Linked DNA regions of Homo sapiens. The protein of the gene in region 2 interacts with the protein of the main gene of each other region in a biochemical or structural test. Each region holds a gene or a part of one and is shown on either strand. Other genes may lie near its edges. The genes, in order: GULP1 and MEGF10.

The links.
Region 1: the proteins of MEGF10 (region 2) and GULP1 form a complex in vitro, tested with the Homo sapiens proteins (one study listed by BioGRID).

The regions. Positions count from the first base shown.
Region 1 is NC_000002.12:188,581,736-188,585,667, reverse strand, and holds part of GULP1 (PTB domain-containing engulfment adapter protein 1), read right to left. Parts: intron 3,328-3,932; coding exon of another isoform or gene 3,103-3,327; intron 1,404-3,102; coding exon 1,265-1,403; intron 1-1,264. UniProt on the Homo sapiens protein: May function as an adapter protein. Required for efficient phagocytosis of apoptotic cells. Modulates cellular glycosphingolipid and cholesterol transport. May play a role in the internalization and endosomal trafficking of various LRP1 ligands, such as PSAP.
Region 2 is NC_000005.10:127,454,680-127,458,611, reverse strand, and holds part of MEGF10 (multiple epidermal growth factor-like domains protein 10 isoform a precursor), read right to left. Parts: intron 3,212-3,932; coding exon 3,005-3,211; intron 1,485-3,004; coding exon 1,294-1,484; 3' UTR 1-1,293. UniProt on the Homo sapiens protein: Membrane receptor involved in phagocytosis by macrophages and astrocytes of apoptotic cells. Receptor for C1q, an eat-me signal, that binds phosphatidylserine expressed on the surface of apoptotic cells. Cooperates with ABCA1 within the process of engulfment.

The DNA.
Region 1 (3,932 bases), on a different chromosome or scaffold from region 2:
TGTCCTGCATCCCAGCCACTCCAGCTCTAGCCATGGCTAAAAGGGGCCAAGATACAGCTCAAGCCATTGCTTCATGGGGTAAAAGCCCTAAGCCTTGGTGGCTTCCCTGTGGTGTTGGGCCTGCAGGTGCACAGAAGACAAGAGTTGAGCTTTGGGAGCCTCTGCCTAGATTTCGGAGGATGTATGGAAACGCCTGAATGTTCAGGCAGAAGTCTGTGGCAGGAGCAGAGCCCTCATGGAGAACCTCTACTAGGGCAATGCAGAGGAGAAATGTAGGGTTAAAGCCCCCACACAGAGTCCCCACTGGGGCACTGCCTAGTGGAGCTGTGAGAAGAGGGCCACTGTCTTTCAGACCCCCGAATGGTAGATCCACCAACAGCTTGCACTGTGTGCCTGTCACTCAATGCCAGCCTGTGAAAACAGCTATGGGGGCTGTACCCTGCAGAGCCACAGAGGTGGAGCTGCCCAAGGCCTTGGGGTCCATCCCTTGCATTAGCATGCCCTGGATGTGACACATGGAGTAAAATGAGATAATTTTGGAGCTTTAAGATTTAATGACTGCCCCACCGGGTTTCAAACTTGCAAGGGGCCTGTGGCTCCTTCGCTTTGCCAATTTCTCCAATTTGGAATGGAAACGTTCACCCAATGCCTGTATGCTCATTGTATTTTACAAGTAACTAACTTGCTTTTTATTTTACAGGCTTATAGGTGTTTTCTAATTCATCAAAAAGAGACTTTAATATTCCTTCCAGATATATAAAAGATAAAACAGAAAAGCAATGAATTTATAGCATTTTAGATAGGAAAGAACCCTTACAAAAGGTTAAGAAATCATGATATAATTTATATATTTTTTAACAAAAAAGTCCATAAACCCTATGATAACAAAAATATTTTAACCAGCTCTATTAAACATGTAAAAAATGATCAATTTAATTACCACCAGTTATTTTTAAAAGTTAAAGTAAAATATTAAAAATATAACCCAAAACAGTGATATATAATTAAATATGAAGTAATACACCAAAACATAATTGTTCACACAATAGGTAAAAGTTGCAAGCAGAGATGTCATTAGTAGTGTAGTCTGAATTATAAAGTAAAATAGAATTAATGGAAATTTATACAAATATAAAAATAATACTTTAATAATTAAAATTGTAAGTAAGGTTGTTAAGATATGTAATTTCCCACAAAGTCTTAATTATATATTTAAAATGTATGCAACTATAACAAGAAACTTTGATTTGTTGAGAAAGCTTACTAATCTCAGTAGATCTACTAGGTACTGGAGGTGGCTGTGTGCCATTGCGAGTAGGCATCGAAGACTGGTGTGATATTGGAGAAAATGGAATCATATCAAAGATGTCAGTGGAGGGCGACTTAGGTGTCATACTGCCTGCCTGCAATGAAAATAAATGAATTAGGGTAATATTTCATATAGACACATTGTAATGCTAAATATTTCATATGCATATAAAATATATGTAAACAACAATTTCAGTTGCATCATAAGAATTTGCCATTTTGTAGACCAAAAATAGTTAAGTATTCGCAATTTCATATGGTTCCACTAATTATGATAAATGCTCATTTAGAAGAAAGCAATAGAAAATTTCTGTAAAAATGCTCTCAAAGATGATGGCAAAAACGGTGACAATATTATTCCAGATGAATATAAAAGATACAGTGAATTTTTGGGATATATAGAAATGACTGCTACTTGTAACAGAGAATTAGATATATTAGAAACTATTCATGTAAAAATATGATTTCAGTAAGATACGCTGCATAAGATTACATTTTAAACTGGAATAATTAGACATAAGTGACCTGCCTTCTTAAATATAAACATTCAAATGCAATTGATTTTTTTTGCATTCTCAAAAGTAGAGTATATTTTAGTTTGTATTTATATCAACAATGGGAACCAACTGATATTCATTGCAGTACATTTTACTCCTGAAAGATTTCATCAAGTTTTCTGTAATAAATAGCAATCTTATAAACTAAATTAATAATCGCCAGTGTACTGCCCAAATCATTGAGTTTTCTGATACAGTCTGGGCCAGGACTGAACACATATAGGGAAAGATAAATGAAAATCTCATGAAAATGTAGCCAAGAAGTAATATCAAAATTAGACATTTATCACTTTGTAAAACAGGGAACAATATGTATATATGTATAATCTCCTTTGAAAACCATCTGATTTGATCAGGGATAAAAGAGAATTTCCATTTTGGGGGAATAGTGGCGAAAAATTTGCTTTTCCTGTGAGAACTTGGACAGAGATTGCTTCCAGTAGTTCATATTAAAATTAGAATTCTCAGAATACGTTTAATTTTCTGATTCACAGGTAGTGCAGGTGATGAAAAAATCAGGCTTATTGTGTGTAGAGAATGATGGGTTTGCTATTCAGCTAAAATAATTGCTAGTACATTATTTTTCATGCAGGAAAATTGCTGTCATCCCCCTTTCTTTAACAATTTGTTTATTGTATCCCCTCACCCCTTTACTGTTACTCAGCAATACCATTCCCCTAATTATCCCATTCCTGTATCCCCTCTCACTTCTATATCTCTACTCTTTTTCACGATACAAAAATTCTAAAATCTTGGCTGTCATTAAAAGCAAAACAAATCAATCAAAAATTTATTTACTCTGTCCCTCTTTAATCTTCCAGCCTCTATTCTGTTTTTCTTTTTCCTTCAAGGCTAAGCTCCTTGAAAGAGATACTACACTTTCTGTCCTAAGATTTACTTCATTCTATCTTTAACTCTTATCAATCTAGATTTGTTCTTTTTGCACTGAACTCTGCTGAAATTGCTCTTACCAATGATCTAATTTCCCAACTGCAACATCTGATAGATCCTTTGAAGTATCTGTATGTAAATTTCTACACTGTCACCACCCTCTACTTGAAACTTTCTGGTATCAGGTAATCAAAGAAAACAACAATGGCACACAAAGGCTCCAGATCACATCACATTGACTCAAGATACATCTAAATTTTTGATAACTTTACAAATAGCACATTTTGGCAGAATTTAAGCAAAATAAGTGGGATAATAAAAAAGAATTATCTGCTTAGCAAATTACATGAGGTCTTGGGATGCTGCTCTCACTGACTGGCTTGGGAAAGCCACATTTAGAAGGTGGTGGTATTAACAGTCCCAGTGATAGTCTGGAATCAGGCGAGTTGATAGGAGTGACAGAGATGGAAGAAATATTGAGACAGGGAGATGAATCACCATTACTACGCCAGAAAGAGGATGAGCATCTCTGAAACACATGTTGTTCATGATCAGACATATTGTGCAGCAGCTGTAAAGGAATGACAGAAAAAGAAATATCCTAAGAGGGCAGGCATGGAGGAAAGGAGAAAGTATACTTGAAATTTATTTGTAAAATGGTGTTTTGTTAAGATGATAAGATCATTTCACAGTAACTTTTCTAAAATTAAAACATAGAGTTAGAGTTGATTTTCCTATGTGATAGTCCTTAGATTCTGGATTGCTTAATTTGATCTTTTTTTTACTGAAATATTACATTTTTTGGTATTTTAAATAGAATATTGCATTCATCGGGACCTAAGAGGAAGGTAATGGAGAGAAACATGAAGAAAGCCTGAAGATTTATTTTGGAGAGGGCTTCTGTAATGAAATGGAAAAAGGAAGGATAGTAATGAGAGAACAGTTACAGAACTAGGAGTAAACTCTTGTACATAAAGTTATGGTTGTGTAGAATTTTCAAAAGGGATTACAACATACATTTTATATTTAATCCTCAAAACATTATTTGAAGTATCAGTAGTAGTGATATTATGTCCTTATTACAATAAATACATGGGAATTAAGGTCCACAGATTCTTTGTGACTTGTATGAGGTAGAAAGCAGATTCAAAATTCAAAACAGTCTGACTCTAGTCA
Region 2 (3,932 bases):
CAAATTATATATTTTCATCTTGTCCCTCCAAAAGAAAAAAGAACAACGCATTTTTATCAAGCAAAAGATAAGTGGCAATAATACAAGGAATAACGAACATATAATATTTTTTCATTAACAATCCAAACACTACAAAACATAGAATATGCAATTTAAAAATGGAAATACAAATTAATGAAAAGTTGGGTACATGTCACATTAGCAATGCAAAAGACCAGCTTAAGCATAGTTTCTCTAAATTGACAATTAATAAAAGGAAAGTTCCCTTTCTCAAATATGCACAAAAATATTTCAGTCACTTCTAGGGAAAGATTAATCAAAATGTTCCACTAATTCTATATTACAGCATGTATTACTAATGGTTTACAGAACGTAAGCGTCATCTTGCATTTAAAATTTACAACCTTTATCAATCATTACACACTCATTCCATCCAGTCTGTCAAAAATAAAATTATTTCATTTCTATATTTATGAAATAACTATTGATATGTTATGAATCTCAAGTGGTGAATATGTATGATGGAGCCAGTGATCAGAATAATGTCATAGATCTGAAGTTGGTTGAGAGTCAAACAGAGAAAACCACCTCTGCCTGGCACATTTGTGTATTGACTTCTGCAATACTTCCTACTATTTCTAAAATAATTCTAATTGTATATTTTCTCATTCTAAACAAAATCTAAGATTTTCGTAAATTTTCTGTCCACTTTTAGAGTATATTCAAAGTCTGTCCAGTCATACCGCCTGACAGAATGTTTCCTCCTGCATTCATATTATCCCTACAATTCTGAGTCCAGTTGAATAAAGTTAAGAATCAGGAGTTAACAATATGTTCCTTGTCTTCTACATGTTCAGTGATTCCCACTTTCATGAAGTAAATTTTATGGTAAACTGTACAATCCTAGGTAGAGCTGTATGATGCAAATGAGAGAGAAAATATTCAAATTTTAATTTTTCAAGCAACAATCCCAATGTCCACTGCAACCTGCGTCTCCGAGGGAGTTCTGCAAGTTCATGCTTTCAGCCAACATCTTACAATAAGTCATGCTTCACGGGTATAGTTCTAAAACTAACAGCAATGGGAAATCACATCTCTAACTCCTTCGAATCCACCTGAACAAAAAGCACCTACAGTCCGTGTCAGCCTCAGCTTTCAGCTTTCTGGTTCATGTCCAAAAATTGCCCACCGAATTGACTAACATTCACATGAAAGTGGCAAAATTGAGGATGGAGAAGAACCAAACAGCAGTTCTGGAAAGGGTTCCAGTGGCTACCAAGCGGTCCTTTGGTGTCATTCACTGCTGCTGCTGCTGTTGCTGCTGCTACCACCACTGTCCTCTTGCTTAGGGGAGGATGAACTGTCTCGGACTGGCAGCAGGTCATAATGACAAGGGATGTGACTGTTCTTTGGGAGGTCATATGGATCCTGGGAGAGACGCCCATTATTGCTGAATACTCCTTGGACAACACTCACTGTAGGTTCTGTGATAACCAAGGACATATTAATTTATCAGCAAAGGAAATGTTTTTAAAAAGAATATGGCATTTCTTGCAAATGTCAAACACACCAAAGGGACTTTTAAAAAAATATAAGGAAATGCTGGTTTTAAAAACATGATTTTAAAAATCATCACATACAGGTGGCAACTCTGTGTAGTTGGATCAACTGGCAAACACAAATGGTGTTCAGAACAAAAGGAGGACCACATAATCGGGATGAAGATATTAAGGGAATATACAGAATCCTGGAAATAAATCATGGTCTGAAAAACACCTTGGGGATAAGGTAGGCCAAGCCCCTTATTCCACAGGTGAGAAGACTGACATTCTCAAACGTTAATTCAGTTCATGAAAACACTCAACATGTTCAGAACTTTAGGACTCAAGACTCAGGCTCTCATTTGAGTTCCCATCCTACTGTGGCAGGTTTGTGGGACAGTTTAAAGGAGAATTGTTACTGACTTTCCAAAAATAAATTTAGTTCACTTTGACTTGCATTTTAAAAAGCTGTCTTAATACTTTAAAAATAAATTATTTTGTATATTTTTTCCCAGGGATGTATCTGGCATAAAATAAATTACTAGTAGTAAAGTAGGCACTTCATTTACAAGTAGTAGAGAATATTTTAAAGTTAAAATCATAAATACTCAGAGAGACATAGAAATAGAGACAGAGAGAGAGAGAGAAATGAAAATATATAGCCCTATTGTTTAGCCAAGAGTAGTGGTGGAATGTTTTATCATTTCCCAAGTGGTATCTGCAAAAGACAATCAAAATAACTCCAATTTTAAATTGAATTCATATTAATTTGCATCACATTCACATCAGAGAATATTACTGCTCTTTTGGACAAGTTTAAAAGTAAAATGTTTCAATCTTGCTAAATGCATTATATTAATATAATGAACCAGGAAATGGAATCACCTGTTTAATCCACTTGAACCATTTGTTTCGGCTAAGTAGATATATTAGCTAATATGATACATATGCTATCCACATGTGTGCCAAAATATTCACTATGGTTACAAAACAAAAGATGGATGATTAGGTGAAAAATAAAGAAACTTTACCTTAAATTTTTCTAAATAATATTTTCCCTGGAAAATTCCTTTGGCACCAATTAATATGATCGCTAAAAACACAGGTCGCATCTATTAATAAAATATGGTGACAAAACCCCGTCTCTACCCAAAATACAAAAAATTAGCTGGGCGTGGTAGTGCGTGCCTGTGGTCCCAGCTACTTGGGAGGCTGAAGTGGGAGGATGGCTTGAGCCCGGGAGGTAGAGGTTGCAGTGAGCCAAGACTGTGCCACTGCACACCACCTGGGTGACAGAGAGACCCCATCTCAAAAAATACATAAAATAAAATAAAATAAAATAAAATACGGACCATTATTTTCAATAAGATTTCTATGACCTGCAACTATTATATTCGTAAAGACTTTAAAATTGTTTTTAAAAACTTAAGCACTCGGTTCTTTCTATGGTTAAGGGAACTCACCAACTTCATAGACATTCCTGTTGGCTGAAGTTGAGTTATTGATCTCTGCATATGGGGAATCTCTTCGTGCCGGCGATTTCATCTCCACATAACCACACTCTGAGCTTTTCGGGATAAGTACAGGTGGGTCTTTAATAGTGGCATATGGGTTCTCAGAACTGCTTAGGGAGCAGTTACTTGAATTATATTCAGAATTCTTTCCCAGGTCTGTGAAGAGAAATGAGAAGAGAAAGCTAATGCTGTGTCACTGGCAACATCATTTCTTGGTGATATTTTACTGTTTTTCTTTATAGCTAGGTTTCCATAATTCTACACACTGAAAATAATACTGTACCTTTTCCACTTGTTTTGGAGAGAATCTGCTATAAAATGACCCATCCCTAAAGTAGTTTTAGCTCCTCTCCAAGATGAGTACTGACATCAATATCATTAACTGATTTCATTTTTATGATCACATTAGAATATAATCAATTACGTTTTGTTTTATTAATAGAAAATTTACAGAAGTTCAATCAAGAAACCAGCTGTTGATGGCCCCAGGAGCACCAAGAGGGCTCTATTATCATGACAAGAAGGCATTTGTGCTGGGAGGACTCCTAGTAAAAGCTCTGTACTAGGCATCTAATCATGCACACCCATCCTGAACAGCAGAACTTGGTCAACATGTAACCATGTGGATCTTTTCTTATTGTCCCGGCTATTTCCCTTTATATGTTTCCGTCTCCCCATAAGCCATATTTCTTTTAAATGAAATATGAGTGTTTCCTCAGCAAACTGAATCTTTTGTTCCCCAAAGACTTAAGCTCTACCAAGGACCACCTCTGGTCACTTTCTTGATGTCAGTCACACATGTTTGTGTGTTTGCTGTAGTAACTGACCACACTAAAAATTCTACATTTTCTCTTGCCATTCTAGCTTGTTTAAAAAC